Homo sapiens: one gene and its partners. The protein of the gene in region 1 interacts with the protein of each later gene in a pairwise test. Each region holds a gene or a part of one and is shown on either strand. Other genes may lie near its edges.

Region 1 (8,534 bases):
GGGGTTTTGAAGATGTATCAATGATTTTGGTTGAGTAGGGCACTTTAGCTTTACTTCTGAGTGCATGCAGCAGTAAAGTTTTTTTTTTATGATTTCCTTGGCTTTAAACAGTTCAAGTGGTTTTCTCAAGTGTGTTAGGGTGCACACTGTTAGTTATTAGTGGAGGTTTTGGTAAAGTTGTGCTGGGAACAGAATGCCAGATGAGCTTGTCTTCAGGCTTCAGCAGTACTGGTGGTGAGCTATGTATGTTTATCCTTGTACTTTGCGGTGCTGAATGTTGGTACCTGTGTTGGCAGTTCTAGGCAGGCCGATTCTTGGGCCTCTGGTTGGCTTTCTTAGATGCTGGTTGTGATAGCAGTGTACCAAGCATGTGAGTGCACTCTTGAGCCCCTGGGCTGCTGGTGTGGCATCCGTGATGGTGGTGGCAGTGGTGCGAAACTCTTCTGGGTCGCACTTGCTGTGCTCATTAGCAGTGGTTGCAGCGGGCTCTGTGGGCCAGCCACTAGACCAGCAGATGGCGCTTGTAGGCAGGAGATGGCTGAAGTGGGTGCAGTAGGGTATTTAGGCCTAACCTCAGCGCCCTAGGAGTGCTCAGGTGTTTCACTTGGTGGACTAGGTTGTGCAATCTCTGGGGGATTTTAAAAGTTTATTTTGCAATTGAGAATGGGATGTTTAGAATTTTTGTCTCCTACTGATTAAAGGTAGAGTATGGGGAAAAAAACAGGCAAAACTAGGAGTTTAAAGAAAAGGAGAGAGAAGAAAAAGAAATGAAGATACAATAATACAGAAAGAACAGAGGGAAAAACTTTATTTATATTTAATACCTATGATGTGACATGCCCGGAGTTAGGAGCATTCATAAGCACCATCTCATATTATCCTCCAACTAAGCTACTCATGTCAGAAAAAATTAAAATTAACAAAGGTCAACAGGGAGTAAGAAATAGAAAATGGAAAGGAAACAATTTTGGAGTGAGACCTACAAAATGATCTCAGAATTTACCCTCTGATAAGTCTTTCTTTGATCCCAGAGTGCACAAAATGTTACATGAAAAAACAAATTAATATAATTACATCTAAATTTCAAGCTTTCTATTTCATAAAGATTATGAGTCAAAACTGAGTGAGTTCAGGGACTCAGAGAAGACATTTAAAATATCTAAATGTGCCCAGTTTTACGGTTTTAGGCATGCGAGTTTTAGATTTTTTTGCTTTTTTATTGAGACAGGGTCTCTTTCACCTAGGATGGAGTGTAGTGGCGTGATCTTCACTCACAGTAGCCTCCACCTCTCAGGTTCAAGCAATCCTCCCATTCAGCCTCCCCAGTAGCTGGGACTACAAGTGCGCACTACCATGCTTGGCTAATTTTTAACTTTTTTGGTAGAGACGGGGATCTCACTATACTGCCCAGGCTGGTCTCGAACTCCTAGACTCAAATGATCCTTCCACCTCCACCTTTCAAAGTACTGGGATTACAGGCATGAGCCACTGTGCCCAGCCAAAGTTTCAGATTCTTCTTAAAGGAATAAAGTCAGAGATCTTAGAAATGAACTAAAGCACGAGCATACAATAAACAAGAGAGAAAAATCAGATGGTTATCAAGAATATGAATGGATATTCAAACTCGGTGTCAGAGAAATGCAAATTAGATATTATTGCATGTTACTTTAAGTTCTATAAATTACTATACTATGGAAAGAAATATGGGGTGATGTAGCTGCAATCATGTATATTTCATGGAAGAGTCAAAGACTGTAGCAGTTTCATAAAGCAATCTGCACAGGTACTGTAAAAAAAATGATTTTCTAGAATATCATGTGACACAGAAAGCCTGTTTCTGGTATATCTCTCAGTCAAGTCCATAAATTCTTATGTGAGAGAAGTTTTCTCACAATACTGTTCAAGGCAGCAGGGACATGGAGACAATATGTTGTAGCATTAAGTGTAAGAGGAGGACCAAAGACATCTATGAGTGAAGTAGAAGACTGAATGTCCACACTAAAGTACAACAGGGCAGTTACTAGCATTTAAGTAGACTTTGACACAGGAGTATATATACATATTAAACACACATTTTGAGTACCAACAAAGGGAGAAAGAAGTCTATAGTACAGTACAATTAAACTACACAAAAAGTAACAGTGCTCCTCTTTCTAAAACACATGTAAATACAAAAACACACAACAGACCTTTAGAATTGTTGTCTACAAGTGGTGGGGTGATGAAGTGTGAGGAACAGGAATGAGTGGAAACACGTCGGAACATTGAACAAGACGAGGTCCTTGTGGGGACATAAGGAGAGAATGTCCACTCACTGTCCAGAGCCTCCTGGGCCATTGTCACCATACAGCCGCTCATTACATGAAAGTGGAATTTCAAAAGGTAGCGAAACACCTAATAAAATATGTTGAAAGGGCTGGGCATGGTGGCTCATGCCTGTAATCCCAGCACTTTGGGAGGCCAAGCCGGGTGGATCATGAGGTCAGGAGTTCAAGACCAGCCTGGCCAACATGGTGAAACCCTGTCTCTACTAAAAATACAAAAATTAGCCAGGTGTGGTGGTGCACACCTGTAGTCCCAGCTACTCGGGAGCTGAGGCAGGAGAATTGCTTGAACCCAGGAGGCAGAGGTTGCAGTGAGCTGAGATCGTGTGACTGCACTCCAGCCTGGGCAACAGAGCGAGACTCTCTCTCTCTCCCTCTCTCCATATATATATATATATATACATACACATACACAAAGATATGTGGCCTGTCACCAAGTGTTAGATGGATGTTTGGGCCAGGCGAGGTGGCTCATGCCTGTAATCCCAGCACTTTGGGAGGCTGAGGCGGGTGGATCACCTGAGGCCAGGAGTTCAAGACCAGCCTGGCCAACATGGTGAAACCCCGTCTCTACTAAAAGTACAAAAATCAGCCAGGCGTGGTGGCCATGCCTGTAATCCCAGCTACTCAGGAGGCTGAGGCAGGAGAATCGCCTGAACCTGGGAGGCAGAGGTTGCCGTGAGCCGAGATCGTGCCATTGCACTCCAGCCTGGGCGACAGAGAGAGACTCTATCTCAAAAAAAGAAAAAAAAAGTTTGTTTAGTTTCTGTTGGTAAATATCTAGAAATAGAATTGTAGGATGGTAGGGATGTATTGTTGGTAAATGATTAACATGTTTTTAATTTTCAGTTTTTTCAGAGACGGGGATCTCACTATATTGCCCAAACTGGTTTTGAACTTATGAACTCAAGTAATCCTCCCGTCTTAACTTCCATGTAGCTGGCACTACTGAACAGCTTTAACTCTTCCAGACCTTCAGTTGGGTGGTTTTTTCTTTTCCTTTCGTTTCCTTCTTTCTCTCTCCTTCCTTCCTTCTTTTTGTAATTTGATAAACCAAATTTCAAGACTTTGGCCAAAAAACAGTCTTCTCCTTTACTGAATATCTCAGTGCTCCATTTTATTTTTCCCTCACCAATTCTGCAGGAGAGATCACAAGACTATGTCCATATCTTTATTTGTGGGGGTATGATTTTCAGCTAACATAGCTGCTAAGTGATTTAATTTACAATTATAGTGGTAGAAAAATAGCTCTAACTTCTGAGGTTTTGTAATTTATTGTAAAAAGCGGAATACAGGACATTTAAAGTGACCTGACAAGGTCAATACAGGACTGAGGACTAATTCATTAAATACGTCTTACGTGTCTTAGAGGACCACAGACAGCTAGCAACCCTACTCCTAATGTGTCCCATGCACTTAGTATTGTACCTGGCATCGAATGAGTGTTCATCAAATATGTTAGAGTAATAAATACGACAGCACAGTTTCCCTATTCAGCTTTACTTTTCTGGTAACTCTTTTAATATATAGTCTTTACCTCTCCCTTCAAGCTGTTAATGCACAATGTTTTCAAGTTTGAAAAAGAATCAGATTTTGGACACCAAACTTGAGTGTGTCCAAGGTTCCAGGACAACCTTAGCTTTTTTCCTCCTATCACAAATATGTTTCTCTATAACTATTTTTGCCACTTTCTTTGGATATCTACATAATCGTCATTAATAGTTTCAGTAATAGCCATTTCACAAGAGTTATTCAGAGACAATTTCAACTCCCTGTGCAGACACTGTTGATACAATTTCAGGCGAAATGATAAATCACTTTCCACTAATGAGATGAGATCATGCATTCCCAAACCTTTATCTCAGGAGTAAGATGCTTTCTTTGCACAAGGGCTTTGACTGGTGGAAGGCCACACTATTCTGGCAGATAATGGTAGATAAGTCGCTTTTCCTTTTCAGTTAGGTTTCAGTCTCTTAAAATAAGTGGAAAATATCTCAGATATAAAGTAATAAGTATCATGTGAATAAAGTGTTGCTGGGTAGGCTGAAAGACAATAACTGATTATTCAGAAAGGAAAGATATTACTCCTCAAACTCCCCATCATGCCATGTCTGGGTCTTTTCAATGTGCCCAGCAGAGCACATTGAAGATCATAAAACAGTCTCCAGAGCTTCGTTCTGTGTGTATTTGGCAAGCACAAAAGAGCTGACCGCTATGCGTGGAAGACCAGTTCTTTATGGTTGGCCATGTTCCTTCGGATGTTCGTCTTTTGGGAACTTGCTGTGCTTTACAGAATCTGAAAGGACAGGTCTCTGAAACATTTCTCTGACTTGTTCTAGACTGCCTTCCGGGAAAATCTGGATGCTTGCCGTTTAAAAGCCAATGAAGCCCCTCCACGTCCTTGGAGCCCCGCAACTGCATTTCTCAAAGCCTCAGGAGGATCCTCCTGGCTTTCATCCTGAACGCGAGTTAACTTAAGTTCAGAAGCGGGGCAGGCAGTGGCCTGGGAACTACATTACCCAAAAGACACAGCGGCGGACACAAGCAGCGAGTGTAGCCAATGAAGGCCTAGCAGAGCGGCGTCTACGGGGGTTCGCAATGCGTGTGGGCGGGACTTCCTGCAACGCCTCCTGGGGTTGTCAATATGGCTGCGTTGGGATCTGTTCACCTTCAGGCTGAGTCGAGACTGAGGTGAAAAAGCGGAAAAACGCGAGAAAAGGTTTCCCCGTTGTACAGAGGCTAGAGTGAGGCTCGGTTGAATCGGTTGCAGGCGTTGGTGCCTCTGTCAGCGTCCAGGTCACTGCCGCTCCCGCCCCGCTCTTCCCTGGCTGTGCTGGCGGAGGCTGCGCCGATGAACCTGACTGAGGTGGGTGCCGCGTCCCAGGGCGCCCCGCCCGATCCCTCCTCCGAGTGCCGAAGCCCCGAGGAGGGGCCCTGCAGGTCAGGCCCCTGTGTCCCAAAGAGAGGAGCGTTCTTGTGTGGGGTACCGGTGTCCGCGGTGCTGTGAGGCGGGGGAGCTCCTGTCAGGGACCTGCACGTGCGAGGCTTAGAGGTGCTGCAGAGCGGGCGGCACTGGGGAGCCCGAGCGTCTTTGTCTCCACGGAGCTGAGGGTGAGGCGGAGTCTCGCCTGGGAGGGCAGCGGAGCTGCTGAAAGCCGTAGAAGGCTGTGCAGGAAGGGTTATGCCCAGAGGTAGACGTTTAAAGTTGGGAAAAACAGGATGTTAAACCAGGACAAGGGGACCGCTGAGGAGACCCCTTGAGTTATGGTAGGGATGGGCCAGAGGGGTTGCAGTAGAGGGGAAGTGTGATGAGATTCTGGATGGATCTCAGAGATAGAGTCGACAGGATTTCCTGCTGCATCAAATGTAGCAGTGAGGGTAGTGAAGGGTCTATTCCATGGATTTTGTTTTGGCCTGAAAATCTGAAAGAATGGAGTTGGAGAAGTCAGCTTAGGGAGCAGGTTTCAGAGAGGATTATGAGTTGCATTTTGGAGGGCTGAGTTTTGGAGGGCAGATCATGGGTGGGTCCATAAGCCTGACGCTACCTTTAGAAAGGCGCAGACCTGTCATAGGAGGGATTCTGGCTCATATCTGCAAAAACGGAGTTCTGAATGGGTTAAGGAACTGGCCTAGGCTGGAGACTGAGGTGTGAGGTGGTTTAGATTTCTGCACCTGCAGACCCAGCAGCCCCCCAGGCCCACTCTGTGGAACAATAGGAAGGTCATCCAGACTAGTGGGGACATTGGGTCCAGACGGGGGTAGGGCTTTCTCACATCTAGTCAAGGGCCTCCAGCAAGCTTCCAGCAACTGAATTTGTAGCAGGCAGGCCTGGTTGCTGATGGGACCAGTAACTGACCTGCTTGCTTATCCCCTCCCTGCAACTTATTTATTTATGAATGTGTAAAACATTTTTTTTTTTTTTGAGACAGAGTCTCGCTCCATCGCCCAGGTTGGAGTGCAGTGGCGCGATCTCGGCTCACTGCAAGCTCCGCCTCCCGAGTTCAAGCAATTCTCCTGCCTCAGCCTCCCGAGTAGCTGGGACTACAAGTGCCCGCCACCACGCCAGGCTAATTTTTTGCATTTTTAGTAGAGACGGGGTTTCACCGTGTTAGCTAGTATGGTCTCTATCTCCTGACCTCATGATCTGCACGCCTCAGCCTCCCAAAGTGCTGGGATTACAGGCATGAGCCACCGCGCCCGGCCGAATGTATAAAACATTTATTTAACCACTAATGAACCAGTATCCTTCTAAATATGTACACATAGGTCGGCAGTTAGAAATGAATGTAACCAATAGTTAAATTTATTCACTTAATAATTGTTGAATGTTGATTTTTCTTTTTTCTTTTTTTTTTTGAGACGGAGTCTCGCTCTGTCGCCAGGCTGGAGTGCAGTGGCGTGGTCTCGGCTCACTGCAACCTCTGCCTCCCGGGTTCAAGCGATTCTCCTACCTCAGCCTCCCGAGTAGCTGGGATTACAGACATGCGCCACCATGCCCATCTAATTTTTGTATTTTTGATAGAGACAGGGTTTCACCATGGTTGGCCAGGATGGTCTTGATCTCTGCACCTCGTGATCCGCCCACCTCGGCCTCCCAAAGTGCTGGGATTAGAGGCTTGAGCCACCATGCCCGGCTGAATGTTAATTTTTCTATTTGCTTGCAATGGAAAGTTTTATGTATCACATTTCCTTAACACCGTAAGAAGTGGGAAAAATACACACCCAAAATTTCAAAACCCTTCCATGTCATTTGTACCGAAAACATGTAAAAAATATTTAATCCAGTAGAAAGAAATTGCTGATACATAGTGTGTACTACTTATATTTGATGCCCATATAAGCCCTATTAGTTGGCAATCCTTTTAATCTCTATTTTACACATAAGGGCACCGAGACTTAAGGAAGTTCAGTCCTCATCAAGACACTGAACCCTGAGGACTTACTGTGTACCCTCAGATAACTTTGCTCTAGTTGCAGGGCCAGAGGTGGTTGTACAGTCAGCCTGTAGGATGCTGCAATGCTGTCTTAATCCTCATGGCCTGCCTCTTCCCACAGGGTTCATAGCAGTGGCAGCAATGCTTATGGATGCTGGACAGGTGAGTGGAGAGTGTTTCCAGCTTTCACCCATCCCAGATGGTTTCAGCATGCTGATATAGGGAATGGTGTTATCCTGAGACTGTTCACCTTTTCTTCTCTCTCCCTTGGGTCCAAGGAGAGCCTGTAGTTCCACCAGACCTGGGTTCCAAACTCAGTGCCTGGTTATATAGAGTGGTTCTAGTTCTCACAACTGATGGTTTGAGATTTGGCAAGGCATCTCAAACACAGGATCTAGAATGTTCAAATGCTTGGTGGTGAGACTTAGATGGGATGCTTAGAGAACTGTAGCTTAATGTTCTAGCTGGCAAGGATAAGGAGCACAGCAGCAGGGCAGGAGGTCGGGGCATGCAGGGATCAGGCATGGAATGGCAGCCTGAGGTTGTCTAGGTTTTTGTTTTTGTTTTGTTTTGTTTTTGAGACAGAATCTTGCTCTGTCTCCAGGCTGGAGTGCAGTGGCGCGATCTCAGCTCACTACAACCTCCGCCTTCCTGGTTCAAGCGATTCTCCTGCCCCGGCCTCCCGAGTAGCTGGGATTATAGGCACCCGCCACCATGCCCGGCTAATTTTTGTATTTTTTAGTAGAGATGGGGTTTCACCATGTTGGCCAGGATGTTCTCAATCTCTTGACCTCGTGATCTGCCTGCCTCGGCCCTCCCAAGGTGCTGGGATTACAGGCTTGAGCCACCACACCTGGCCTTGTTTTTTTTTTTTTTTCCAGACAGAGGCTAACTCTGTCGCCCAGGCGGGAGTGCATTGATGTGATCTCGGATCATTGCGACCTCTGTCTCCCAGGTTCAAGCAATTCTCCTGCCTCAGCCTTCCAAGTAGCTGGGATTACAGGCATGAACCAACACACCCAGCTAATTTTTGTATTTTTAGTAGAGACAGGATTTCACCATGTTGGCCAGGCTGGTCTCGAACTCCTGGCCTCAAGTGATCTGCCTGCCTCAGCCTCCCAAAGTGCTGGGATTACAGGTATGAGCCACCGTGCCCAGTGGTTCTAGGTCTTTAATCTGAGGGGGGTAGTAGCTAGGGAAGGTTTGAGAAAGAAAAAAGAGGTGATTTGACCTAGATTCTTTTTTTTTTTTTTTGAGACGGAGTCTCCCTCTGTCG
Region 2 (4,288 bases), on another chromosome or scaffold:
CTTCATTATTAACCAAGAAGTTCTAAAACTATCAAACAGTGGAGGTCTGATATTCCCTATTTGAAACTGGGTAAAGCGTGATCAACAGACAAACCACAACACAATCTTTCAGATATTTCTATCCCTACTCTCTTATTCCCAAATTTACAAAACTATTTGCAAAAAGACAAAGATTAAGTTTTCTCTTGTACTATTTGAGGCAAATCATGTCTACAAACACTGGCTTTTAAAATCAGACATTAAAAAAAGATGTAAGATCCATCAGCTTATCAATTAGAATTTAGTTCTTTCTCTGTTTAGGTAACTTCCTTGAGCACAAAATATTATGACCATACCTGGGCTGAGTTTCAGCAAACAGGGCTGGCCACACGTATGGTGCTTTCATCCAAGACTGAGATTATCAGTAGGATGAGTGCTGAAACTCCACTTTTCTAAGAAAATGATTTTGCAGCCAGGATGGCCAGAAGCTTCAAATGACAACTTTACTGATTCGAGGTAATTTCCCAGGAATTTAAGAGGCAATCATTTACTTCTGACTTTCAAAGAGAACTGGGCTTGAAAAGTACAGTTCCATCTAAAATTGATCAGCTAGCGACAACCCTCTGAAGTTACTTGGGAGTGAGGGAAAGCAGTTGAGACCCCTACACATCTGGACTGAACTATCTAGTTCATTTTCCAGGTTGTAAATTTTCTGGTCCCAAAGACTACTTGAAAATAACTTTTTACCAAGCAAGTAGACTTTTTATTAGCTGAAGTACTAAATTTTTTAAAAAATTATTTTGATATGGAACACTACAGCTATAAGACTTGCCAACAACTAATCTTCAATGAAATGTGCATTTAAGAAAATAGCAAAATTACAAGAAACAAAAATCTGAGTCCTGAAAACATGGATTTTAAATTATTGTAGATGACAATCTTATTAAAATACTGCTCTATATCATATTCAAATAAACCAGAGAATTTAATAAATATCAGCATTTACCATCTAACTTGATACTATGGTTGAGATTAAAAGGGTTTTGCTGCCTGGACATTTTTGACATTTGTCAATCTATATAAGCAGAAAACATCTGAACAAAAGGAAGGACACATGCATGTTTTCACTGAGAGCTGTATTTGAAGAACAGCCTATATTCTGCTAAATTTCAATCTTCAAATTTTGATCTTTTTATTTATTCTGAAAGTCTAAGATATTAAGAATCAGTACGTATTTTAAAATAAGACTGCATATAGTTAGAAAAATATGCTTCGAGAGCTTATATTTTATTTCGTTAAGAAAATAAAACCATGTACAAAAATCATTTCTGTTCACTCACACCAATCCTGTTGTTTGATCTTTGTGACTAAGCACCACCATAAAGCACGAAGCTCTGAAGGAAGGTGGCGGCAGAGCTCTCTCCTTAACCCCAGGCTGCCTTGGGGTCTCATTTCTCAGCTTCACTGGAAAGTTCGATCACTCCCTGGTTGGAGACCGTATTTAAAATAGCCCACAGTTTGGAAGGGTCCTCACAGTTATGCTGGTGCTTCCAGTGGTGGAGGAGGTCCTCTTTCCGTCCCAGCATCTCTGCACAAAGCAGGCAGTTAAAGCCTGAATGGGACCACAAGAGAAACGTGTGGAGGCCAGGACACTCAGGGCCCTGGCAGGTTTCCCTTGGCTTGTTGGTTCCTGACTGGGGTCCTTCATTTTCCATGAGCATTTCCACGCCATTCTGATGAAGGTGGAGCTGCCTTTTCAGTCTTGGACATGCATGTGATTCCTCGGAGGAGGAATGAACCTTCTCCGGCTTCCCTCTCTCAGGATGCCTTTTCCAGTCGGGGCTAGCGTGCTGCACCAACTCTTCCTGAGTCCCCTTGCTTCCTGGGAAGGTCCCTTCTTGTAGCCTGCCCTCAATTTCCTCTCCATGAACATCAAGTAAATGAAATTTTATTTCCGCAAAAGACTGAGCAGTAATCTGACAACGACCACATTTGATTTGTAATTTGACTTCGTCTGCCTGGTTTAGAAGGAAGTCTTCTTCCAGGTTGGACTTGTTTTCCCTGAAAAGGCCAATAATAATGAAGATAAGATTTCATGGAAAAATGCAATTGGAATCTTTCCTCTCAGCTGTCAGCCTTCAGGGATCTAAAACATAACACTGACGAGAAAGACAAGGGCTGGGGTAAACAGAGAGCACCTGGGAAGACCTTCTGCAAGGACCGTGGTGAATACTAATTGTCACTCCTGCTTGTGGCCACACATTTCTCCAGCTACCAGGGTTCATTTAGTCAACAGTCCTCTTCACGCATCTGTCCCAGGCGAGCTAACTCGTCTTTGGTTACCACAGGGACAGGAGCAATCACGTGGAAGAGTCACGTAAGAGCGCGTGAAGGGCACGGGAACACCCTCGGTTCTGTTGAAGGTAACGGTCCCACCCTACCCACTGTGGCTCTCCCTAACCTTGAGCACCAATACCTTCTATTCAATTTTGGCTCACTCTGTCATGTTCAGTAAAAATAAAGGGTGCCTACCCTATTTCTTCCTTGCTTTTCTAGAGTTTCTCCTTTTTCTTAGACATTTCTGTCCCCTTTAAGACCTCTGTGCCTTTCACTAATGAACCATGAAACCTCACTTCTTCCTTCTTTTCCTAGAGTTAGATTTTGATTTTTAGGTACAATGTCCAAACTACATTTGGCAAGAGCGTCTGTTTTCATTTGGGGAAGAGGAGAAGATTTCATATTCAGAAAGGAGCCAGTGAGCACCCAGCTGAAGGTGCAGCCGGGACTTGTGGGGCTAGTCCTGAGAGTGTCAGGTTCATTTGTGCAGGGTTGGCCAGGGCCACTGCACCACCTGCACCTTGCCTGCTGTTGCTGCTGGGAAAACATGGAGAGGAGGTGGGCAGTCCCTGAAACCTGCCGCCATGAGAGCCACTGCGATGGGGCCAGGCTGAGTCACCTGCTGGCAGGGGAAAACAGCACACTAGGGCATGCAGGAGTGGGTAGAGAGGGGCCCTGAGGCAGAGCTGGGCCAGGGGTGGTGCCACACTTCATGGAGCCAGTGGGAGCTGGGGACAAGCACGAGCCCTGCCCTTTCCAAGTTGACGGTGTGGGAGCTTACCAGGCACAACTGCCTGCAGCTGCCCAAGCTGCAGCTGTGACCCAGGCACCCCTGTGCTCTTGGAAGCTGGGAGCAGGCAGGAGCGCTCCTGCCCTCCCAGGCATCACTGTAGCTACCCTGCTGTGGCTGCAGATCCAGGCATCTCTGCACTCTCAGGGGTCCAGGAAGGCCCCTTTCCCCCCACGGGCTCAAGAAGCACCTGCTCCTGCTGCCTGGCTTCTCCCTGCTGTCAGCACCTGCTCCAATCTCAAAGCAAGGCTGGGGCTGAGCCTGGGCTCTGCTGTAACCTGGTTGGGTGTGCACACGCTTGAGGCAGTGCTGATATGCCCACCTCCTACCCCATTGGCCTGCTCCAGACTTTGGGTGCCAATAAGCATGGAAGGGAGGCTGAGGAAGGGGTGCTCAGGACAGCTCGGTGCCAGCCTGCAGGTGCCCCCTCAGCATGAACAGCCTGGGTGCCATAAACAGAAGCAGGGAGCAAAGAAGCTCCTGGGCAGAAAAGGGGAGGTCCCCGGTGAAGCCCCACCTTCAAGCCAGAGAAGCCCTGAAGCCTGGGGGCCAGGTTGCCAGTCATGTGGACTGGAGTGGGAACTTGTGGTGCTTTTCTGGGTCTGTCCATGACTGCCCATGGACCAACTGCACGCATTTCCTCTCCTCTGAGGCACATAAAAGCCCCGGACTTAGCCAGACTTGAAGAGACAATGGGACGACCAGTGGCAGAGAGGAGCTACCCTCTCTGCTGAGAGCACAAGAGATGACGGGGAAAACCTGCCTGCAGAGAGGAACTGCCCCCTGCAGTTCAACTCTGAGCTGTTCTATCACTCAATAAAGCTCCTCTTCATCTTGCTCACCCTCTACTTCTCTGTGTACCTCATTCTTCCTGAACGCAGGACAAGAACTTGAGACCTGCCAAATGGTGGGGCTAAGAGAGCTGTAACACAAACAGGCTGAAACACGCCTCTTGCTTGCCACACAGCAGGTGAAGAGAAGAGCTGCGGCCCTTTGGGGAGCTCTGTCCTGGGAGCCCCCTGAGCCAGGGCAGTGACTCCCTAGTCTCCAAGCTTCTGGGCAACATCATGTTCCTGGTGCCAACCGTGGAAGCTGCTTGTGATGTGCCTGGTCCAGCCACAGCCTTGCAAGGAGGTGGCACCTGGAGCTGCCTGGCCTGCAGCAGCAGCCGGCGTGCCTGCC
Region 3 (8,371 bases), on another chromosome or scaffold:
TTAGGAGTCCCAGAGTCATGCTGCCTCACCCTCTTGTCATTACATTGTAACCAGCAGTTTCATGCCTGCCCTTCCCCCCATTAAACTTAGAGGTGAGGGCTGCATTTTGGGAGACGTAGCTGGAGCTGGATAGAGAGTTGACTGTTCTGGTGACTAGGTCTGGCTCATAGGGGAGGGTTGTGGTGGAGCCTTCCTGGGCTGGGTGTGGATAGGCCCAGGGCCTGCAAGGAAACGGGAAGCTTTGATTGGCTGAGGGCAGGCAACTCTTATGGAAGAAGCACTGAGGAGGAGTCCTACCTCAGGGCTCAGTGTGGACCTGTTGGCACTTTTACTGGGTCTCAGTCCCTTTTCCTCCACATGGGATGCAGAGACCTCCTGCCCAGCTTGAAACCTACCTTGCTGGGTGAGCCACATAAAACAACTTGTGCTTGTTTTCTCTTCTATAAAATGGGATCCACAGTACTGATCTCCAGGCTTGCTGTGAGTCTGAAATCTAAGGGGAGCACTAGACAGCGCCTAGCACATCATCAGTGCTCTAGAGTGCATTTGTGCGCAGCAAAATGTGGGTGAGTCTTCCTAGTTTCCTTCCAGTGAGCTTCCTGGGAGCATTAACAGGACTGGAAGGGATGGAAAGGTGTGAGGGGGTTCATCTAAACCCAAAGAACAGCTCCTGCTGCTTAGTAGGCACTGATGGCATGCCAGAAGCTGTGCCAAGCACTTCTCTATCCTCACAGCCGTATGCTGTGGACATCCCAATTTTACAGATCAGAACAGGAGGCTCAAAGAGATGTGTATGTGTCTGTGGCGGGGGAGATGTTCCAGGCTCTGGAGATTTTTTGGTCTGTGCTTGGGACACTGCAGCACTGTGGGGGAATGCCAGCCTCTCTCTGTTCCAGTCTTTCTGGCGGTGGGGTTCTGTCCTCTTCAAAGGGAGCCGGGGGCCGGGCGCGGTGGCTGACGCCTGTAATCCCAGCACTTTGGGAGGCCGAGGTGGGCAGATCACCTGAGGTCAGAAGTTCAAGACCAGCCTGGCCAACATGGCTAAACCCCATCTCTACCAAAGACAGTTAGCCAGGCGTGACGATGCATGCCTGTAATCCCAGCTACTTGGGGGGCTAAGGCAGGAGAATTGCTTGAACTCCGGAGGCGGAGGTTGCAATGAGCCGAGTTCGTGCCATTGCACTCCAGCCTGGGCGACAAGAACAACAACAACAACAACAAAAAAAAAAACAACCAGAGGGGCCAGGAGGAGAGGAGAGAGGCAAGGGAGGAATTCTGAGTGAGGGGAGAGGCCAAGAAGAGAGAATGCAGAGCTTCTGGTGTTGGAGACGGGGAGAGAGCAGAGTCCTAAGAGTGGGTGAATAACCTCTCAGTGTGCCCCCGGCTCGCCTGTGTTTACTCACACCCCTGGCCCTTTTGCTTTCTCTTTCTCTTCAACTTCCTAGTGTGCTCATATTTATCTTGAGAAGCACTGTGTGGGGAAGGGCAGGAAAAGAGGGGCAGGGAGGTGGCAGGGAGGGTTGGGAGGCCAGAAAGGGAACCTGAAAGCCCACTCCCCCATCAGAAGGCATTACAGGGTTCCCTGGGACCCCTGCAGGTGCTTGGGAAACAGGCAGATAAGGCACTTAGGAGACATTGTGGGTCAGGAGTGACCCTATGGGTCAGGCTTTGAGGATGGAAGCAGCCAGCCCTTGGCATAGTGTTCTCAGACAGACTCAGCCCAGGAGCGGGTCGTGAAATCAATTTGGTGGGGTGTGACCTGCATTTTAAATAGGAAATTAGAATCACATCACCCTTGGTAAGGGTAAGTTTTGGTTTGTGTGTGCTAGGTCATGATGTCAAAAGTACTTCTGACTGTTGGTCACATTAAAAAAACTGAGGCAGGGTGCGATGGCTAACTCTTGTAATCCCAGAGCTCTGGAAGGCTGAGGCTGAAGGATGGTTTGAGCTCAGGAGTTTGAGACCAGCCTGGGCAACATGGTGATACCTCCTCTCTACAAAAGATAAAAACAAAATTAGCCAGGCAAGGTGGCAGTGGTGCTTGCCTGTGGTCCCAGCTACTCAGAAGGCTGAGGTGTAAGAATCCCCAGAGCCCAGGAGGTCAAGGCTGCAGTGAGCCATGGTTCTGGGCGACAGAGAGAGACCCTGTCTCATAATAATAACAACAATAAAAATAGAAAAACTGTTTTAAGGTAAGGGCTTTGTCAATTGCTACTTGGTTTAGAATCTTGGTTCTGTCACTTGCAACAAAGTTTAGTTTATGCTAGGCACAGTGGGTGGCTCATGCCTGTAGTCCCAGCACTTTGGGAGGCCGAGGTGGGCAGATCACCTGAGGTCGGGAGTTCGAGACCAGCCTGGCCAACATGGTGAAACCCCGTCTCTACTAAAAAATACAAAAATTAGCTTGGCATGGTAGTGGGCGCCTGTAATCCCAGATACTCGGGAGGCTAAGACACTCACCGTGCACTGTCTTGAACATGAAAGATGCTGCTTGAGCTTTAAGAGCTGATAGTGGGCCGAGCTCAGTGGCTCATGCCTGTAATCTCAGCACTTTGGGAGGCAGAGGCAGGTGGATCACCTGAGGTCAGGAGTTTGAGACCAGTCTGGCCAACATGGTGAAAACCTGTCTCTACCAAAAAATACAAAAATTAGCAGGGCGTGGTGACTCACATCTGTAATCCTAGCAACTCAGGATGCTGAGGCAGGAGAATCACTTGAACCCGGGAGGCGGAGGTTGCAGTGAGCTGAGATGGCACCACTGCACTCCAGCCTGGAAGACAGAATGAGACTTGGTCCCCTCCCCCACCAAAAAAAAAAAAAAAAAAAAAGAGCCAATGGTAAAGTGTGAGTTCTGGAAGGCAGAATTCCAACCCCAAGTTCTGGTTAAAAATGTCCAAAGAGAGATTTCAGGTATTTTTTTGTTTTTGTTTTAGAGATAGGGTCTTGCTCTGTCACTCAGGCTTCAGTGCAGTGGCTGCATTGGGGCTCATTGAAGCCTGGAATTCCTGGGCCCAAGCGATCCTCCTGCCTTGGCCTCCCAAAGTGTTGGGATAACAGGAGTGAGCTATTGCATGGCCAGGATTTGAAATTGGCCAGCGTATCACTAAAATCAACAAATGGTACTGGCCGGGCGCAGTGGCTCCCGCCTGTAATCCCAGCACTTTGGGAGGACGAGGTGAGTGGATCACCCCAGGTCAGTAGACCAGCCTGGCCAAGGTGGTGAAACTCCATCTCTACTAAAAATACAAAAATTAGCCGGGCATGGTGGCACGTGCCTGTAGCCCCAGCTACTCGGGAGGCCGAGGCAGGAGAATTGCTTGAACCCGAGAGGCAGAGCTTGCAGTGAGCCAAGATTGCGCCACTGCACTCCAGCCTGGGGGACAGAGCAAGACTCCCGTCTCAAAACAAACAAACAAATGCTACTAATCAGGGTTTTTCTGGCTTTTTATGGTTCATGTCTTGGGGTGCTGGAGGGACAGAATGTGGGGCATCCGCATTACTTGAAAAGTATTATTTAAACAAAATGCTTTGGCCCTCCTTAGTGGTTCAGAACTTTGCCTCTCAAGTAGAACTTGTTGGCCCCTTTCATCTCTATGAACAGAACACCGCCTATCGCTTGGGGCTGTTGTGAGGCCTCGGTGAGATAACCGTGCCATGCGCTGCTGAAACTGGCACTTAACGCTCAGTATGATTCTTGCGGGCGCTGGGCACCGCGGACTAATGTGGTACCTCCCTGCCTTCACAGGACTTCGAGTTTAATGTGGCTTCAGTGTCGTAACCTTTATCATTTCATAACAGAAACGGGTTCAGAGAGGAAGGGTGACTTGCTCAAGGGTACAAGCTTGCTGGGCAGGGCTTGGACTAAAACCCAGGAATGGCCCTGCGCGCGGATTACACAGCCTGGGGCTTCGCACACGAGCCCGAGTTTGAGTCCGATCGGCAGTTCCCCATCTGGCATCCAGAATGGGGTGCCCCCTGCTTTCTCCACGAAGTGGAAGGCGCCGAGAGGCCGGGCGGAATTCGGGGCCCCCATACGAGGCCGGGCCTGCACTTTCGGGGTGGTGGGCGCCCCGCTCCCGGTGCCCCGCGGAGCAGGGAAGCCGCTCGCTCACCACGTGACGCGCCGGCCGGGGGCACCCGCGCCTCCGTGCGACGCCCCGCCCACCGGCCTGCCGCGCGCCAGTGTCCTGGGTCGGGCCGGAGAGGGGAGAGCGGGGGAGGGGACGCGGCGCGGGGGGCGGCCGTGCGTCGCCGCGCGCCTTCCTCCCACCTCTCGCCGGGCCCTGTGTCTCCGCGCCGCGACTCCGCCCCCTCATCCCGCCGCCCAGGCCAATGGCGCCGCGGCGCGAGCCTCCCCGGCCGGAGGCGGAGCATCCGCGCGGGGCCTGGCGCGCCTGCGCCCTGCGCCCGCCCCTCGCCGTAGGAGGAGGTGGAGGAGGAGGCGGCTCGGGAGAGCGAGCAGCGAGCTGGCTGGATCGCCGAGCGCGAGTGAGGGAGCCGAGCCGCCCGCCGCCGCCGCCTCCGCCTCCCCTCCGCGAACAGGAGCCCGGGCCGGGGCCCGGCACGCCGCCCCAGCCCGTCCCTCGGCGTCAGGCCGCGAGGGTAGCGCGCGCGAGCGAGCGAGGGGGAGGGAGAGCGAGCGAGCGCCGGGAGGAGGCGGCCGGACCGAGCGGGCGCCCGCGCGTGTGGCGTGAGGGGAAGCCGCTTGCCCGCCCCCTTCGCCTTCCCTTCTCTCCCCCTCCCCGCTCCCCCCCCGACCGCGGAGCAGCACCATGTCGGCGCCGGCGGCCAAAGTCAGTAAAAAGGAGCTCAACTCCAACCACGACGGGGCCGACGAGACCTCAGGTGAGAGCAGCGAGCCCGGGGGCCGGCCCGCGCCGCCATCTTCGCCGCCCGCCCCGGCCCGCAGGCCGCCGGCGGGGCCCGGGGCGCGCGCGGGGGGCGCCGGGCGGGGGGGCGCGGCGCGGCCGGGCGGGGGCCCGCGGACTCGGCGCCCTTTTTTGTGCGCGGCTGGGCTGGGGGCCTGGGTGGCCCGCGCCGCGGCGGCCGCGCTGCGAGGCGGGGGCGCTGCGGCCTGCTCGGCGCGGGCGGAGGAGACCCCCCCTTCCTCTCCCCCCTCCCTCGCTCTCCTCCCCCTCCCTCCCTCCCGAGAAGCCTCTCTTTATTGTGCTCCGCCATGATGCCTCGCTCCCATCAGCCGCCGCCGCCGCCACATGGTGCGGCCGGACGCGGCCCCGCGCCCGACCTCCCGCGCGGTTCCGCTTCGCGCCCGGCCCGCGGCGGCGCCCCCGGCACCCCCGCCCAGAGGCTGGCCCCGGCGGGGCTTCTGCCTGGAGCTCGGGTGGGGTGGGGGCGCGGGGAACACGCGGGCGGCCGCGCGCTGGGCCTTGGCCGGCCGGGAGGATGCTCTGGCCAGCCCGGGCGCACTCCCCACGTGGGGCGGCCGCCCCGTCGCGCCAGCGTGCGGAGAAACCTGGCGCCGCGACCAGTGTATCGGGGGTCTTGGAAATGGCTAAGAAAGCTGGCCTCTGCCTAGGAGGCTCTCGGCAGGGGGGCTGCCAATCCGGGATGGTTACCGGAAATGAACCGCGCGATCTGGCCCTTTCACACCCACTTAGCTTTGTAGGGGGTTTGTAGTCTTTACAGGACAAAAGGGCACCTATTCCAGAGCACACCCCCTTTTCTTCCTCTCCCTTCTGTGCCTCACTGCTTTCCGATCTCATAGTTGCTCCCAGTAAGTGCTCCAAAGTCGTGTGGGGCCGCATCTGAGGTCTGCCCGCCTGAATTGGGTTGGAGGGGTTCATGTTCTGAGAAGGCGAAGGCCAGGGTGTAGGATGGTGCCCCGTGACTTTCCAGTCTTTGTAGGCGTGCCTGGTATCTTCATCGTAATAGCAGAGTCGTCAACTTTCTATGAAAGGTGGTTTTACCTTGATAGGTGGTAGTGGTGGCCTAATTTGTATCATTGTCATGGGTTTAGTTTCCATATTCTAGTTAGCAGCTGCTACTGTTCTCTTGCAAGTGTATAATGTGAAATAATAAACGTGAAGACTTCTGAATAAGGTTATTCTGTGTCTTTCATAGTAGAAACCTTAATGATCGGTCTGTTGTAGTGAAACTCTTTAAAAAGGCGCTATAGAAAACCAATTTCTGAGTAAACCAGCAGACAGCATGACTTGTAAATGGTCTTTTAATTAATTAAAAAGAAATTAGTCAGCTACAAGCATGAACATGTGGAACGCTTGCCTTTGTACTAGGCGTTTTTGTTTTTGTTTTAATGGCTTTTGGAATATTATAGTATTAACATCTGGAAAACTAGGTAAATTTATCTTAGAATTAAGTTTTTTGCTCCTTTTTTGCAGAAAAAGAACAGCAAGAAGCGATTGAACACATTGATGAAGTACAAAATGAAATAGACAGGTAACATTTTTCTTAATATACTTCGGAGAAATTTTCTGAGATGTGTCTAATAGCCCGGTAATTATCGAAGCTATGGTCAAATCTATCCACTGTCAAAGGGGAAATGATTCTAACTTGGTTGGAAATACTTATGTAGATTCAGTGTTTTTTGGTGAAGTGATTGTACAGAAGTTTTTGAAAGTGCATTGACCTTACAAGGTTTGGGTTTGCTTTCAAAGACTGAAAATTGTCTGAATTGCAGTGTAGGTCTTCTGATGGTTTAGCAGTGTGGCATCAGTGGTTGCTCTAACTTGCCTTACAACTTTGTTATGGATTAGCCACTTTATTTAGAAATCGCGCTTGAGGGAAACAATTGAAATTGGACTGGAAATGGAGTGGGCGAAGTAAATACACACGTTACCAGAGTGTTGAGTTTGGGCACTCTTAACAGTCATTATTACTCAGTGTTTATTGATAAATCAGACAAAATTGCCATCTTAGTTTTGAGTGTCTAAATTAGGTGATAATGGTTATTATAATTTGGTTATTTTGCATGACTCAAGCTAGTAAGTAAATACACTCTGTAATCTCAACCAATTTTTTAATTTGTTAAATACTATCATTGTCAACATCTCTTTTCATTTGCTTCAGACTTAATGAACAAGCCAGTGAGGAGATTTTGAAAGTAGAACAGAAATATAACAAACTCCGCCAACCATTTTTTCAGAAGAGGTCAGAATTGATCGCCAAAATCCCAAATTTTTGGGTAACAACATTTGTCAACCATCCACAAGGTATGTTTTGGACAGGGCATTGTTAAAGGATAAACAGTGTTTGTTAGAATGGAGGAAGCTTGGTGAAGACTTAGTCCAGCATGCTGGGTTGCGTGCAACAAAGACAGGCTGGGTGCGGTGGCGCACCTGTAATCCCAGCACTTTGGGAGGCCGAGGTGGGTGGATCACTTGAGGTCAGGGGTTCGAAACCAGCTTGGCCAACAGGTTGAAACCCCGTCTCTACTAAAAATACAAAAAAAATTAGCTGGGCGTGGTGGCGCGCGCTTGTAATCCCAGCTACTCGCTACTTGGGAGGCTGAGGCAGGAGAATCGCTTGAACCCAGGAGGGGGAGGTTGCAGTGAGCCGAGATTGTGCGCTTTTGCATTCCAGCCTGGGCGACAAGAGTGAGACTGTTTCAAAAAAAAAAAAAAAAAAAAAAAAACCTCAAAGACGGGAAAAGATATACAGCTACTGCTTTCTATTCTGTTTAGGAGAAGCTATATTCTAATTGCTTGATGAAAGATAGTGACAGTCTGATATTGAGCAATTGCCTTTAGTTAATAATGGGTTTATAAAACCAAAGATGCTCACTAAGTTCGGAAAAATTTTAAAGGGATCACTTAAATTGTTGTTAGTGTGTGCCTGTTGAAAATTCAGCTGACCTGTAATTTTCTGGCCTAGTGTCTGCACTGCTTGGGGAGGAAGATGAAGAGGCACTGCATTATTTGACCAGAGTTGAAGTGACAGAATTTGAAGATATTAAATCAGGTTACAGAATAGATTTTGTAAGTATCTCTAACTTAATCTTGTTTGCCACTGTGGAAATTAATGTGAGCTTTGGTTGGAAGACCTGTTCATATTTCTAATCTTTCAATTATTTATTACAGTATTTTGATGAAAATCCTTACTTTGAAAATAAAGTTCTCTCCAAAGAATTTCATCTGAATGAGAGTGGTGATCCATCTTCGAAGTCCACCGAAATCAAATGGAAATCTGGAAAGGTATGTTTTGAGGAATTATTTGACAAAAATAGCATTTTGCCTATTTCAGTTTAGTTTTAACCACTTACAAGTGCTTGATACTTTGGTCATGTGGCTAAATACAAAACCTTAAAATATAAAACGTTCCAGTGTGCTGAAGCCAAGTATTACAGTAGTTTAGGGTTCTCATTAGATACTACAGATGTAGGCAGGAAGATCTC
Region 4 (8,889 bases), about 44 Mb from region 1:
GTTCCCTCTCATTCCTGGGGATCAGCGAGCATGCCTCCCTACAGCACACCCCCCACCTGACTCATTCTGCCTCATCCAGGTCAGAGGTCCCTCCTTACAGGAGTTCTTACAGAAACCAACTGAGGTCTGCTTACCCAGCACAGTAAAACCAGATACCCACACTAAGGTCTTTGCAGTGATAGAAAGAAAGGTGTTTATTGCAGGGCACCATGCAAGGAGAATCAGGGCAGCTCATGCTTAAGACCTGAAATCACCAATGGCTTGCAGGTGGGGGTTTTTTAAGGCAGGTGTAAATTTCAGTAAACCAGAAGCTACAAGCAAAATCATAAATCAATGCATGGAGATTACACATTGGTTTCCACTTAAAAAGGCAGGATATCTTAAAGTGGGGGCTTACAGGTCGTAGATAGATTTAAACATCTAGGCAGGGCACGGTGGCTCACGCCTGTAATCCTAATACTTTGGGAGGCCAAGATGGGAGGATTACCTGAGGTCAGGAGTTCGAGACCAGCCTCGCCAACATGACGAAGCCCTGTCTCTACTAAAAATACAAACATTAGCCGGATGTGGTGGCACATGCCTGTGATCCTTGCTACTCGGGAGGCTGAGGCAGGAGAATCGCTTGAACCTGGGAAGTTGAGGTTGCAGTGAGCCGAGATCATGCCACTGTACTCCAGCCTGGGCGACAGCAAGACTCAGTCTCAGGAAAAAAAAAAGAAAAAGAAAAAAATAGAAAGCCTGGGCGCAGTGGCTCACGCCTGTAATCCCAACACTTTGGGAGGCCAAGATGGGAGGATTACCTGAGGTCAGGAGTTCGAGACCAGCCTGGCCAACATGACGAAGCCCTGTCTCTACTAAAAATACAAAAATTAGCCGGATGCGGTGGCACATGCCTGTGATCCTCGCTACTCGGGAGGCTGAGGCAGGAGAATCGCTTGAACCTGGGAGGTTGAGGTTGCAGTGAGCCGAGACCACGCCACTGCACTCCAGCCTGGGCAAGACTCAGTCTCAGGAAAAAAAAGAAAAAGAAAAAAATAGGCTGGGCGCAGTGGCTCACGCCTGTAATCCCAACACTTTGGGAGGCCGAGGCGGGTGGATCACGAAGTCAGGAGTTCAAGCCAGCCTGGCCAGCATAGTGAAACCTCGTCTCTACTATAGATACAAAAATTAGCTGGGCATGGTGGCAGGTGCCTGTAATCCCAGCTACTTGGGAAGCTGAGGCAGGAGAATCACTTGAACCCGAGAGGTGAAGGTTGCAGTGAGCCGAGATCACGCCACAGGACTCCAGCTTGGGCAACAGAGACTTAGTCTCAAAAAAAAAAAGAAAAGAAAAAGATTTAAACATCTTCTGATTTGCAATGGATTAAGGAAGAGAAGCTTTGTTTAAAAATTTTGAGTCAGTAGAAACATGTCAACTGGTTAGGGGAAGTAACTTTCTCCAAGCCCCTCAGGAGGAAACTTGGAACAAAAGGGACATAAAGTTTAGTCTTCACTTCCCCCTTATCTGGGGTTTCCAAGACTCTGAAAGACAATTCAGGGACATATGTTAAGATGTTATCTTTAATTTCTATAGGGAAACCAAACATCTCTGGGACTCTAACTTCCTTAGCTTTTGTTTTGGATCATTATGTCTTTTTTGTTTAACAAGTTACTTATTTACTTCTCAAGGCTAGCTAGGGGCCTGGAATTTCCCTTGAAGGAACTCAGAAATTTCCTTTGTTTCCATGCTTGGGGTCTCGTAAAAAAGGGGATCCCTGCTCTGTCTCAGGGTCTTACTGACCCTCACTCCAGCCCATTCTCAAACACCCTACCCTCTTTAAAAATTTCTCTGGGGTTAGGCCGGGCGCAGTGGCTCACGCCTGTAATCCCAGCACTTTGGGAGGCCGAGACGGGCGGATCACGAGGTCAGGAGATGGAGACCATCTTGGCTAACATGGTGAAACCCCGTTTCTACTAAAAATACAAAAAATTAGCCGGGTGTTGTGGCGGGCGCCTGTAGTCCCAGTTACTCGGGAGGCTGAGGCAGGAGAATGGCGTGAACCCGGGAGGCGGAGCCTGCAGTGAGCCGAGATCATGCCACTGCACTCCAGCCCAGGCAACAGAGCGAGACTCCGTCTCAAAAAAAAAAAAAAAGATTTTTCTGGGGTCTCATGGTCTTTTAAGTCAAATGCATACAACCCAAAACAGTATAGCTCAGAGGACAAGGGAACAAGGTTTAGCATGAGCAGTTGTAGGTCAGCTCCTCCACCCCTCACTAACTGTGCGACTTAACCTCTCTGGGCCTGTCTCACCATCTGTAAAACAGAAATGATGAAAAGTATCTACCTTCTAGGGGCATTCTATGAGATTATGCATGTGTGAGTGAGCACCAAGCATTGCTCAGTGGTGCCTAGTGGGTAGTGAGCACTCAGTATGCAGCACCATGACTATGTAAGAATTCATTTGTTAGTAGAGCCCGGCTTTAGAACAGAGATGGAACCTGGCACCGAATAATAAAGCATGGGGAGGCCGGGCGCAGTGGCTCATGCCTGTAATCCCAGCACTTTGGGAGGCCGAGGTGGGCAGATCACCTGAGGTCAGGAATTCAACACCAGCCTGGCCAACGTGGAGAAACCCCGTCTCTACTAAAAATACTAGCTGGGTGTGGTGGCGCATGCCTGTAATCCCAGGGCTGAGGCAGGAGAATCGCTTGATCCCGGAAGGAAGGTGGAGGTTGCGGTGAGCCAAGATTGTGCCTTTGCTCTCCAGCCTGAGCAACAAGAGCAAAACTCCATAGATAGATAGATAGATAGATAGATAGATAGATAGATAGATAGATATAGATATATAGATATCTATAGATCTATAGATATCTATATATATATATATAGATATATATATATATCAGGAGGAATAGTAGTAATATTGTCATCACTTCTCACCCTGTCTTTGATAAATTGCCAGTTGAAGTGTCTGCTTCATCACTGAGAAAAGAGTGTGTTCTTTCCTCTCTGAATCCCCAGGACCAGACATATAGCAGGTGTCCAATGAACAGCTCAGCTGTTGAATGAACAAATAGATTCTGTTAGGCCCTACAAGGCATAAAAGTAAATTCAGTCTGGGCACAGTGGCTCATGCCTGTAATCCCAGCACTTTGGGAGGCCAAGGCGGGCAGATCATCTGAGGTCAGGAGTTTGAGACCAGCCTGGCCAACATGGTGAAACCCCATCTCTACTAAAAATACAAATATTAGCCAGGCATGGTGGCGGGCACCTGTAGTCCCAGCTACCTGGGAGGCTGAAGCAGGAGACTCACTTGAACCTGGGAGGCAGAGGGTGTAGTGAGCTGAGACCACACCACTGCACTCCAGCCTGAGTGACAGTGAGACTCCGACTCAAAAAAAAAAAAGTAAATTCAAAAGCCATTCACCTGTGCAGAAGGCAGGGCCAGGCTAATCTGAAGGCTCTAAGAGAAGTATCCACCCACTTCTTCTGTAAAAGGCCAGATGGTAAATATTTTAGATTCTTTGGGCTCTCTCTTCCTCTGTGGCAACCACTGAATTCAACCCTGTTGCAGACATAGACAATAGATAAATGAATGGGCCCGGCTGTTTGTAGGTAGGTGAAAAATGGCTTCCCTTCACCTTTATAGGTTCTTTGGCTGGGCTACGAATTAAATTGACATGTAAACAGACAGGGCAAAAGCCATATTTAATTATGTACCTATGCAGGGGAGTCCCACAAAATACAAGACTCCAAAAAGGATCAGAGAGGCTGGGCCCAGTGGCTCATGCCTGTAATCCAGGCACTTTGGAAGGCCAAGGCAGGCAGATCACCTGAGGTTGGGACTTCCAGACCAGTCTGGCCAACATGGTGAAACCCCATCTCTACTAAAAATACAAAAAATAGCCGGGCGTGGTGGAAGGTGCCTGTAATCCCAGCTACTCGGGAGGCTGAGGCAAGAGAATCACTTGAACCTGGGAGGTGGAGAGCGCAGTGAGCTGAGATCACGCCATTGAACTCCAGCCTGGACCACAGAGCAAGACTCCCTCTCAAAAAAAAAAAAGTATCAAAGAAAAGAATAGGGGTTTGGGGCTTCTGGGAGGATGGTGGTAACACAAGTTATGGGAGGGTAAGGGGAGAAATTGTATGATGGAGAAAGTCTGTCTTGTTAAGCAAATAAAAAAGTCTTGCAGGTAATAAAAGTTGTCTCAGAGCAGCCCTCAGAAGGATACATGATTGGGAATGGTTTCACTCTTCCCTAGTTAATAAGATCGTAGGAAAGCATTCCTCTTTCTGTCTTTAGGCAGATAAGAGAAATTCAGAGAAAACCTCTCCTTCCCTGCATTTGCTGTTCCCCCAAGTGCCCTTATTTTGAAGCAATCAGCAGACAAAAGCGCATATCCCTGTGTTCCAATGAAATTTTATTTACGTACGCTGAAATTTGAATGTTTTATTTTCATAAGTCGTAAAATAGTTTTTCCCCCACCTAACTATTTAAAAATGCAAAAACAGAGCAGTGGTTCACGCCTGTAATCCCAGCACTTTGGGAGGCAGGAGGATTGCTTGGGCCCTGGAGTTCGAGACTAGCCGGGGCAACATAGTAAGACCTTGCCTGTGCAAATAATTTTTCTTGAGACGGAGTCTTGCTGTTGTTGCCCAGGCTGGAGTGCAGTGGCGCGATCTCGGCTCTTTGCAACCTCTGCCTCCCGGGTTCAAGCAATTCTTTTGCCTCAGCCTCCCAAGTAGCTGGGACTACAGGGGCCCGCCACCACACCCTCGCTGACCGGCTGCAGCGCGCAGGACAGCACGCCTGGGAGGGCGGTGCCAGGAGGCGGGCCTCGGATTGGGCCTCACGTAGTGGGCTGGACAGAGGATGGAGCCTCTTGGCGTAAGCGCGGTTGGGCGGGGCATTCCTGGATTGGCCCACTCCGGCGTCGCAGAACGCTTGGCGTATCGTCCTTCAGCCAATCAGCGTGGAGCTGCTGCCTCGCCCCGCCTCACGCCGGCGTCCTGGGGGCGCGGAGAGGGCGCCCAGGTTCACCGCGCTCTCAGCGCGCACTTCCGGGCACGGTCAGGGCGTGACGTCGGGAGGAGGGCAGGTAAGTGCCGGCGGGCGGAGGAGCGGGGAGGGCCGGGGGTCCGGCAGCCGCCTCACCCTGGCCTCGGAGCTGCCCGGCGCGCCCTTCCGCGTCGGGGGACGCGGAGCTGAGGACCCGATTTAGATGCCCGGAGCCGGCCCAGGTCCCAGCCAGGACCAAAGTCCCTGAGGCCCCAGCTGAGACCTCTGACCCAAGTGCCCGGGACCCGGTCCCATCCTAGCCCGGATCCATATTATGCCTGAAGGGTCCTGGGTTTTTGCATCGGGAAAATGGGACCAATAAGTCCCTATCTCACCAGATTTTATAAAAATGATTCTTGTAAAACCGTGAGCAGCAGAAATGACTAAACTGCCAAACGTTTAACTCGGCGTCAGGCGCTGCCCTGAATGCCTTAACCAGCCATTTTTACACATAAGGAAAATGAGGCTTAGAGAGAGAAAACAATTTGCCCCAAGTCAAGCAGATAGGAAGCAGCAGGGTGGAGCTCCGAGCCCAAGCCGTAAGCCCAGGACAAACAGGGTCGGTAATTACTTTTGCACCAAGGACCGGAGATATCTACACGCCCACCCGATAGCCCCGTCTGCCATTTACTGGGGTAACAAAACCATCTTAAGACACACACACACCCTCGAGCTCCTGTAAACGGAGTATTTGCTCTTTGCAGGCTCTTCCCGTGGGTTAGTTGATTCACAGCATCCCCAGAAAGTCAGTCTTGTCGTCGTCATTCGCCCTTTACCGGTGACGAAATACAAGCCCAGGGAAGCGCAGTCACTGACCAAGGTCACCCAGCTGATGAGGAGTGGAGCTGGGATTCAAGCCCAGGGAGCCGTGTCCCCTAACGCCTCAAGGGGCACTTAGCTATTTTGTTGGCAAAAGTATTTTTAGGTTGGAAGGGACCTTGGAATAATCCAATCTAAAGGACACACTTTATAGTTGGAGGATACAAGACTAAGGTGAGGGTAGAACAGTTTATATCCGGGACTTTGCACCACTGCCTCACCACCTCACTACACCACTCCCACTCCATCAGAAGCTCTTCCATCAGCTTCTTTCTTTCTTTTTGTTGGAGACAGAATCTCACTCTTGTCACCTTGGATGGAGTGCAGTGGCGTGATCTCGGTTCACTGCAACCTCCGCCTCCCAGATTCAAGCGATTCTCCTGCCTCAGCCTCTCCAGTAGCTGGGATTACAGGCGTACGCCACCAGGCCTGGCCAATTTTTGTATTTTTAGTAGAGACAGGGTTTCACCATGTTGGCCAGGCCGGTCTTGAACTCCTGACCTCAAGTGATCCACCTGCCTCAGCCTCCCAAAGTGCTGGGATTACAGGCGTGAGCCACCGAGTCCGGCCCCCAAGAATGGTTTTAAATTTTCTAGTAGTTGGGGAAAAATCAAAAGAATAATACTTTGTGACATGACGATTATGTGAAATTCAAATTTCTGTGTCCATCAATAAAATTTATATTGGCATGCAGCTACGCCCGTTCATTTATATATTGTTTGGGACTGATTTCTAGCTATGAAAGCAGAGTTGAGTTGTTGGGGCAGAGATAATCTGGCCTAAAAAGCTAGAAATACTTATTTTCTGGCCCTTGACAGAGAAACTTTGCCAATCTCTGTTCTAGAATACCCTTCACTGCTTCACAGAGTCTCTCTTTAGTGTAAACTAGAACTTCTTTCTTTTTTTTTTTTTTTTTTGAGATGGAGTCTCGCTCTATCGCCCAGGCTGGAGTGTGGTGGCGCAATCTTTGCTCACTGCAAGCTCCGCCTCCCGGGTTCACGCCATTCTCCTGCCTCAGCCTCCCGAGTAGCTGGGACTACAGGCACCCGCCACCACGCCCAGCTAATTTTTTGTATTTTTTAGTAGAGACGGGGTTTCACTGTGTTTGCCAGGATGGTCTCGATCTCCTGACCTCATGATCCACCCGCCTCGGCCTCCCAAAGTGCTGGGATTACAGGCGTGAAGAACTTCCTTCTATATGACCTAAAAGCCTCCCTTCCAAACATGAGAGGGGGTCTCACCACCCCTAGTTTGAGGAGCCCCTGCATTTCCCACCTGTGTCACCTGCACTGACTGTGACCCTTATGGAGCCTCATTCAGTTATCTCAGTTGTTTACCCAGTTGACATTTATCTGGGCCTGGCACTGTCCTAGGTGTTAGGGATATGGCACAGTGTGACCTGCCGGGGGAGACATAAACCGACACAGGGTGATATGATCAGAATTCCAGGAAACAAGTGACTATGGATTGGATGGTTAGATGAGTTCATTGGTTTTTTTTGTTTGTTTGTTTGAGACGGAGTCTCACTTTGTAGCCTAGGCTGGGGTGCAGTGGCGCCATCTTGGCTTACTGCAACCTCCGCCTCCCGGTTTGAGCCATTCTCCTGCCTCAGTTTCCCGAGTAGCTGGGATTACAGGCATGCACCATCACACTCGGCTAATTTTTGTATTTTTAGTAGAGATGGGGTTTCACCATGTTGGCCAGGCTGGTCTTGAACTCCTGACCTCAGGGGATCCACCTGCTTCAGCCTCCCAAACTGCTGGGATTACAGGTGTGAGCCACCGCACCTGGCCGGATGAGGTCTTTGATGGATATGATATGTAGGTCAAGACCTGTGACAGGGGGCTGGGTGCAGTGGCTTGTGCCTGTGATCCCAGCACTTTGGGAGGCCCTAGGTGTGTGGATCACCTCAGGCCAGGAGTTCCAGACTGGCCTGGTCAACACAGTGAAACCCTGTCTCTACTAAAAATACAAAAAAATTAGCCAGGCTTGGTGGCGGGTACCTGTAATCCCAGCTACTCAGGAGACTGAGGCATGACATCACTTAAACCCAGGAGGCAGAGATAGTGAGCCAAGATCATGCCACCCCACTCCAGCCTGGGTGATAGAGTGAGACTCCGTCTCAAAAAAAAAAAAAAAAAAAAAAAGCCTGTAACAAAGAGCTTGCAAACCTGAGGAACAGCAGGTGCAGGCCAGCTGCACTTGGCCTTTGAAGACAGCCAGGAAGCCAGTGTGGCTGGAACAGAGTGAACGAGAGATAGAGGGGTAAGAGTTAGGCTTGGAGAGGCAGGCAGGGGCCCCACAGGCCGTGGGAAGGGGTTTGACTTGATTCTAAAAACCATATGAATCATGGGAGGGGTTTAAGCAGGAGAGTGACACGTTTGTTCATATTAAAAGATCCCAGCTGGGCATGGTGGCTCACACCTGTAATGCCAGCACTTTGGGAGGTTGGGGCGGGTGGATCATGAGGTAAAGAGATCAAGACCATCCTGGGCAACATGGTGAAACCCTGTCTCTATTAAAAATACAAAATTAGCTGGGTGTGGTGGCGCACGCTTGTAGTCCCAGCTACTCGGGAGACTGAGGCAGGAGAATCACTTGAACCCAGGAGGTGGAGGTTGCAGTGAGCAGAGATCGCGCCACTGCACTCCAGCCTGGTGACAGAGCGAGACTCCATCTCAAAAAACAAAAAGATCCCCTGGGCAGCTGTGGGGTGAGCAAGTGTCAAGGGCAGAGTCGGGAGAGAGAAGACCGTGCTGGCCCACGTGAGTGATGATGGGTGCTGGACCCGGTGGGGGCCACAGAGGGATGAAAGTGTCAGATGTGATGCGTATATTGGCTGTAGAGTGGACGGGACTCTCTCTTTCTAAACAGACACGCCGCTTTTTGGATGCCTCCTATGCCTGGCGGGAGTCTTGTCTGAGCTGGCACCACCACACGGCCCACGACATCTTCGCAGGGAAGCCTGTGGACCCTCTGCCAGGCTCCACAAGAGGTCAGGACAGTGCAGTGTGTTCACAAGGCCAGTTT

What was found.
Region 2: the proteins of ZNF17 (region 1) and ZNF438 interact in binary tests that used the Homo sapiens proteins (3 or more experiments, as listed by UniProt).
Region 3: the proteins of ZNF17 (region 1) and SET interact in binary tests that used the Homo sapiens proteins (3 or more experiments, as listed by UniProt).
Region 4: the proteins of ZNF17 (region 1) and YJU2B interact in binary tests that used the Homo sapiens proteins (3 or more experiments, as listed by UniProt).

The regions. Positions count from the first base shown.
Region 1 is NC_000019.10:57,406,217-57,414,750, forward strand, and holds the start of ZNF17 (zinc finger protein 17), read left to right. Parts: upstream 1-4,944; 5' UTR 4,945-5,175; coding exon of another isoform or gene 5,176-5,190; intron 5,191-5,217; exon of another isoform or gene 5,218-5,264; intron 5,265-7,379; 5' UTR 7,380-7,399; coding exon 7,400-7,420; intron 7,421-8,534. UniProt on the Homo sapiens protein: May be involved in transcriptional regulation.
Region 2 is NC_000010.11:30,843,534-30,847,821, forward strand, and holds the end of ZNF438 (zinc finger protein 438), read right to left. Parts: intron 2,041-4,288; coding exon 1,428-2,040; 3' UTR 1,099-1,427; downstream 1-1,098. UniProt on the Homo sapiens protein: Isoform 1 acts as a transcriptional repressor.
Region 3 is NC_000009.12:128,684,811-128,693,181, forward strand, and holds the start of SET (protein SET), read left to right. Parts: upstream 1-4,411; 5' UTR 4,412-4,772; coding exon 4,773-4,845; intron 4,846-5,163; exon of another isoform or gene 5,164-5,176; coding exon of another isoform or gene 5,177-5,216; intron 5,217-6,359; coding exon 6,360-6,417; intron 6,418-7,047; coding exon 7,048-7,190; intron 7,191-7,851; coding exon 7,852-7,955; intron 7,956-8,057; coding exon 8,058-8,171; intron 8,172-8,371. UniProt on the Homo sapiens protein: Multitasking protein, involved in apoptosis, transcription, nucleosome assembly and histone chaperoning. Isoform 2 anti-apoptotic activity is mediated by inhibition of the GZMA-activated DNase, NME1.
Region 4 is NC_000019.10:13,742,875-13,751,763, forward strand, and holds the start of YJU2B (probable splicing factor YJU2B), read left to right. Parts: upstream 1-5,020; 5' UTR 5,021-5,080; intron 5,081-8,733; 5' UTR 8,734-8,889. UniProt on the Homo sapiens protein: May be involved in mRNA splicing.